2 linked regions of the Homo sapiens genome follow. The protein of the gene in region 2 purifies or fractionates together with the protein of the main gene of each other region. This does not show direct contact. Each region holds a gene or a part of one and is shown on either strand. Other genes may lie near its edges. The genes, in order: ARL6IP5 and HSD17B2.

Evidence for each region.
Region 1: the proteins of HSD17B2 (region 2) and ARL6IP5 purify together in Homo sapiens (affinity purification with mass spectrometry; one large-scale study listed by BioGRID and IntAct). This does not show direct contact.

Annotation. Positions count from the first base shown.
Region 1 is NC_000003.12:69,101,618-69,104,272, reverse strand, and holds part of ARL6IP5 (PRA1 family protein 3), read right to left. Parts: intron 2,435-2,655; coding exon 2,217-2,434; intron 1-2,216. UniProt on the Homo sapiens protein: Regulates intracellular concentrations of taurine and glutamate. Negatively modulates SLC1A1/EAAC1 glutamate transport activity by decreasing its affinity for glutamate in a PKC activity-dependent manner.
Region 2 is NC_000016.10:82,041,725-82,045,551, forward strand, and holds part of HSD17B2 (17-beta-hydroxysteroid dehydrogenase type 2), read left to right. Parts: intron 1-2,611; exon of another isoform or gene 2,612-3,827. UniProt on the Homo sapiens protein: Catalyzes the NAD-dependent oxidation of the highly active 17beta-hydroxysteroids, such as estradiol (E2), testosterone (T), and dihydrotestosterone (DHT), to their less active forms and thus regulates the biological potency of these steroids.

The sequences.
Region 1 (2,655 bases), on a different chromosome or scaffold from region 2:
GTTTTTTTTCTGCATTAAAGGAAAATGCTGTATTCAACAGGAAGGACCATTATCTGGAAGCCACACCCTTTCCTTCACACACTGATATCATCACCTTGCAGATGCTACTTAAATGTCCTGAAATTCAGAGTGAATCAACGGGATTCCATCCTACTTAAAAATCAACTTACCCGAGGCTTTCCAGAAAAGAACTCTTGCTCGATTCGGGATTATCTGTATCTTGTTCCCTGCAGGAGCACGTGAGTAAAGTCCACTTTTAAAGTGCCTCCCGGAGGCTTTACCCAAAGTGTTGGGTATAGAATTCTAGATGTAAAAATCTAAGGGCTTTACAGAGTTTCTATAGCCTACCGTTCCCCAAACTTGCTTGATTATTTTACCACAGATTCCCTATCCCCTTTCCTGGACCTCCTCCACCTGAGCCTTAAAGAGACAGGCCTGGGAATCTGTATTTTAAACAGGTAACCCTCTCTCCATATGATCTATACCAGTGGTTTTACAACTTCCATGTACATTCAAATCACCTGGAGAGCCTGTTAAATAGGCAAATTCCTGGTCTCCATCACCCCAAATTCAGACTGTTACAACTGAGGGAAGGCTCCAGAATTCATTATTTTAATAATCACTCCAGATGATTCTGATGTAGGTGGATCTTGGACCCTTATTTTGAAAAACCCTGATGTGGATTCATCTGGAGGATCTCAACCTAGACCACCCGTTAGAAATAGTTGACGAGCTTTCTAAAAACCTAACATCCTTGGGTACCACTGTTGACCCACAAAATAAAGATGTGGCTGGGAAATGTATATTTTTAAAAAGTATCCTGAATGCTTGTCACAATTATCCGTTTGGGAATCACTTATCTAATCTCCTTACTTTAGAGATGAGTGAACTACAGCCCATATAGGATGACTGGTCCAAATCACATGCTGGTTTCCAGCAGGTCTAAGAATAGAAATCAGGACTCTTAACTGTCTACCTCTGATACATTTCGTTACACTGGCCTGTCTCAGGTTCTGATGTGGAAAGGTATTAAAATTAGCAAGCTGTTTGATTAAACAGTATCATTGAAATACTAAGCGTTAAGCACCTACAGAAAACCTGAAGAAAATTCCAAAAATGTGTGAATTTGTTGGCTCAGATATTTTATCCAATAGGGTATGGGATGTATCCATAAATATTCTGGACTTAATCTAACAAAGCCCTAAACAAGCAAATAATTTCATTTAGTGGAATAAGTGCACATGTCAAATGTTATTGAAAGTTAAAGGGATGTGCCTGTCACTTAATATACTAGAATTTTAATCAGATTTCTGCTGATTAGGCTGGGATTTTATTTCTTGTCTATTTCAGGCTTCAAGTGTTTGGAGTCTTAGTAAATAATTCATGTAAAACTTAGAGAATATCTAGATCTCTTCACCAGAATCTGAGTATTTAGTACCTATATTCTGAGCCAATTATTCCTATAGACTTACCAAACTTTTAACACTAGTTATGATCTCCTGAGCAAGTGGAGAATAAATAGTCTACTTCCAAATAATAAATACATTCATTCCTGTGTCAGGACAATAGGAATGGCACTTAAAAATTGAGAATAGACTCTCTTATTAGACAAATCTGGAGTCTAGTGCAGGTTATGCCACATTCCTGCTGTATGACCTGGGATTTGTCTTTGTTCTGTTTACTGTTGTGTCCCCATAAGAATGTATGGCACACAGCTGGGCGAAGTGGCTCACGCCTGTAATCCCAGCACTTGGGGAGTCCAAGGAAGCTAGATCACTCAAGCTTGGGAGTCCGAGATCAGCCTGGGCAACATAGTAAAACCCCGGTCTCTACCCAAAACACAAAAAATTAGCTGGGTGTGCACCTGTGGTCCCAGCTATTCAGGAGGCAGAGGTTGCAGTAAGCCGAGATAACACCACAGCGTGGGTGACAGAGTAGACCCCATCTCAACAACAACAAAAGAATGTATGACACATAGCAGATGCCCCAACAAATATTTGTGGAATTAATGAACTATAAGGCCTTGACCTCATAGTTCTTGACCTCAGTTCTGTGTTATCTGGGTCTAGTTGGATAACAAGTAGAAAGCTGTTTTAGAAAATTCTGACACTTTTGCTGACATGCCAACACATATAAGAAATGGGTTATGGAATTCCCGTTGGATAATTGCTTCTACATTTTTTTGATGATGGAAGAAAAAACTCAAGTTCACTTACACAGCAAAGGAAAAGTAATGCCAAACACAAAGACCATGACTCCTCCAAACATGGAGATAAGGAAATAGCTCGCCAACATGACCACCATAACGAACGTCGTGGGGTAGCGCTTCTTCATCCGGCGAAGGACGTCTTTATTGTGGGCTGCCCACACAAACCCTGTGAACACCAGCACCACCACGATTCCTCCCAGGATCATGTTGAAGGGACTCAGAAACCTGAAATATGAGGAAGAAAAAATGAGGGGTGACTAGTTCAGCAATAGAAGTAGCAAAAGGAGAAAGAGGAGTAAAAACAATTATTGAGAACTTACTAATACTTTAATACTTTATCTAAATTGTCTCATTTGATTTCTCATAACCTTATAAAGGAGATACTATTAGTTCATTTCTCAAATGAAGAAGCTAAGGCACAGAGGTTAGAAAATGGTGGGGAAGGC
Region 2 (3,827 bases):
CCTACACTTCCTCCAAGGTAATCTCTGACTCTGTCTTTACTCCACCTTCTTATATGGCTGCATTCTCTACCCAGCAGCAAAGTCATACCTGCTCCTGTGGTATCAATTATCTCCTCTGAGAGAGGACTGGCAAATCGTGGTTTTGTATACCTGACATTCTTCTGAGCTCCTGACTCATATTTCCAGAATTTTAGCCTGAAACTTTAAATTTGGCATGTTTTAAAAAAAATTTATCATCTCCTCTTGTGATCCTTTTCCCTTTCTTTTCTTTTCTTTTTTTTTTTTTTAATTTTTTATGCACAGAGTCTCGCTCTGTCACCCAGGCTGGAGTGCAGTGGTGCGATCTTGGTTCACTGCAATCTCTGCCTTCCAGGTTCAAGCAATTCTCCTTGCCTCAGCCTCCCGAGTAGCTGGGATTACAGGGGCCCACAACCATGCCTAGCCAATTTTTGTATTTTTTAGTAGAGAGGGGGTTACGCCATTTTGACCAGGCTGGGCTTGAACCCCTGACCTCAAGTGATCTTCCCGCCTCAGCCTCCCAAAGCGCTGGGATTACAGGCATGAGTCACCACGCCCAGCCTCCCACAGTGCTAGGATGACAGGCGTGAGCCACCACGCCCAGCCTCCCAAAGTGCTGGGATGACAGGCGTGAGCCAGAACTATCGCACTTGGCCTCAGTGTCTAAAACTTGGTGGAGGGTGGTAAGTTCCATGCAAACTGGAGCACATACCTCATGACTAGAGAAGGCAGCTGCTTCCTATTTCCAGTCAATTATTGCCACTTTGCCATTTTTGTGGTATTTAAGAGGAAATAGAAAATTGTGGATCTTTGTGTGTGAAATCTCCCATTTAAAACAAGTTGGCAATGATTTCTTTCTTATATTATATTTTATTTTATTTTATTTATTATTTTTTGAGAAGGAGTTTTGGTCTTGTTACCCAGGCTGGAGTGCAATGGCACGATCTCGGCTCACTGCAACCTCCTCCTCCTGGGTTCAAGCAATTCTCCTGCCTCAGCCTCCCAAGTAGCTGGGATTATAGGCACCCACCACCATGCTCAGCTAATTTTGTATTTTTAGTAGAGATGGGCTTTCACCATGTTGGCCAGGCTGGTCTCGAACTCCTGAACTCAGCTAATCCACCTGCCTCGGCCTCCCAAAGTGCTGGCATTACAGGTGTAAGCCACTGCATCTGGTCTCTTTCTTATATTTTAAACAATCCCATAGATCAAACAGAACACATTCTTGTGGCCAAATGTTAGCTTCCAACTTCTGCTCTGGTTCCTGCAGAGAGGAGCAGGCAGAGAAGAAACTTTTCTCTTGCTTATGCAGTTGCATCTCTTGACATCATTTCTGTGGGTTACTTTGCTGTCAGGGCCTCTGTCTTCTTATTCAGGCTATCACAGACTCCTTCAAGGAAGGATGAGGGGAGAAAGAAGCTCGTCTTGGGCCAAGCTTTTCCCTAGTGGAGCACATAGAGCTTTGAGGCTTCCATGTTCCCTCCCATTAGCAAGTGCAATGTGGGGACTGGGGCTCCCCAGGCAGGATCTGGCCACATGCAAGGGGTCTCCCCTGGCCTGCCCTCCTTGTTTCAGGTCACTTGTGATATTGGGGGGAAAGGGGTGAGCAGCCAAGAACAGATCATTCAGCCACTTTAGGGTTTATAAAAATCATATAGATGGCCGGGCGCGGTGGCTCATGCCTGTAATCCCAGCACTTTGGGAGGCCGAGGCGGGCGGATCACGAGGTCAGGAGATGGAGACTATCCTGGCTAACACGGTGAAACCCCGCCTCTACTAAAAATAGAAAAAATCAGCCGGGCGCCGTGGCAGGCGCCTGTAGTCCCAGCTACTCGGGAGGCTGAGGCAGGAGAATGGCGTGAACCCAGGAAGCGGAGCTTGCAGTGAGTCGAGATCGCGCCACTGCACTGTCTGCCTGGGCGACAAGGCAAAACTCTGTCTCAAAAAAAAAAAAAAAAAAAAAAAAAAAAAATCATATAGATAAACTTTATTTCAGACCCAACCATTTCCCAACACCTGAACACCATTTTCAGGATCATCCCATTTCATCCACTGGGGTTTTGAATAATCCCAGTGACAGGGAGTTGACCCCCTATTGGTGGAAGTTATTTCATTTTTATACAATGCTAATGGTTGTAAATATCTTCCTTATAATGAGCGAACTATTCTTCCCTTGAAGTTAACTCTGCTCTTGGAAGTCACATAATCTAATTAAAGTATTATTTTGCATGATTGCCCTTGAAACATGTGGACTGCATCATATCAGAGTCAAATCTTCTTTGAACTAAATCTTCTCATTCCTTTTACCATTCCTCCCATGGCCTAGTTTCCAGAACGTTCATCATTCTATTTAGCCTCCTCTGAACCATTTCCAGTTTCTTTCTTGACATTCCTCTGAGCTGTTGACTCAGAGTTAATATCACATACCATCTTGGTATGAGCAACACAAACCCAGCTGGAACTAAATGAGGTGAAATTAAATCAGAACAGATGCAGGGTTCTTCACCACATGCTGTTGCTTTGTTTGGTGGGGTCAGTCCCTAAACAGAATTTCCCCTGAATTCTGAACCAATGGAGAAATGAGACAGGGGGCTTAAGACATCAGCTTTATTCCTGATAGATGCATTGGAGCACGGGTCTTAGGCATGTGGTAATAACGGTGCTCAGCCAAGGCAAGGTCGAAAAGTCTCAGGCCTCACCCACAGATGGGGCCTGGGCTGGGCAGCTGGGCTTAGCACAGGTGTTTATAGGCTGGGAGGTTGGAAGGAAGAGACAATAGGGTCCACGTGAGGGTCTGGCCTCTTGGATTTTCTCCTCTCCTTCTCAGTCCTGATCATTTCCTCCGAGTTGTCATTTGGTTCTCCTGCTAGAGAGAGAAAAGACCTTTGCACCAGGCAAAATGTTCATGTCCAATTCTTTCTGCCAAACTCACCAATCAGATACTTTGCTCCACCTCCCTGGGGGGAGGAGGGTAGAGGAGCCAGAGGGGCCAGGAACGTCACACTGAAAGCTATCCCTCCATATTGCAGACAGCATAGGAAGTGGGGAAGAAGTGTTCCCCTGTCACACTAGGTCCAGAAAACCAACACTTCTGACTGGGCATGGTGGCTCACGCTTGTAATCTCAGCACTTTGGGAGGCCAGGGTGGGCAGATCACCTGAGGTCAGGAGTTCGAGACCAGCCTGGCCAACAGGGCGAAACCCAATCTCTACTAAAAATACAAAAATTATTAGGGCATGGTGGTGTGCACCTGTAATCCTGGCTACTCTACTCAGGAGGCTGAGACAGGAAAATCGCTTGAACATGAGAGGCAGAGGTTGCAGTGAGCTGAGATCACACCACCGCACTCCAGCTTGGGTGACAGAGTAAAACTCTGTCCAAAAAAAAAAAAAAAAAAAAAAGAGAGAAAAAAGAAAAGAAAATCAACTCTCTGAATAGCGGATGCTGTGTCTAAACTGCAAACTGCAGCTGGTATGAAAATGGTCCAGGGAGGTTTGACTGTGAACTTAAATGGGGTCAGCACTGGGCTGTTTACCCCCAGTGAGCCCCCCATCCATCTTAAGCTTCCCTCTTAAGATATACAGTATCTAAATGAAGATATTAGACTACTCACTAGTTCTGCACTCATGAGAAAGCTGCTTCACCTCTATGAGGTTAATTTTTCTCACATATAAAGTGGAATCATGATTGATATCTCTTCTAAGTATTAAGCAAGATTGTGAATATATATTGCTGCCTGATACGTAGTAGCTGCTTTATAAAATATAATGATTTTTACCTATTTTCTATCTTTTCCAGTTCAGTAATCC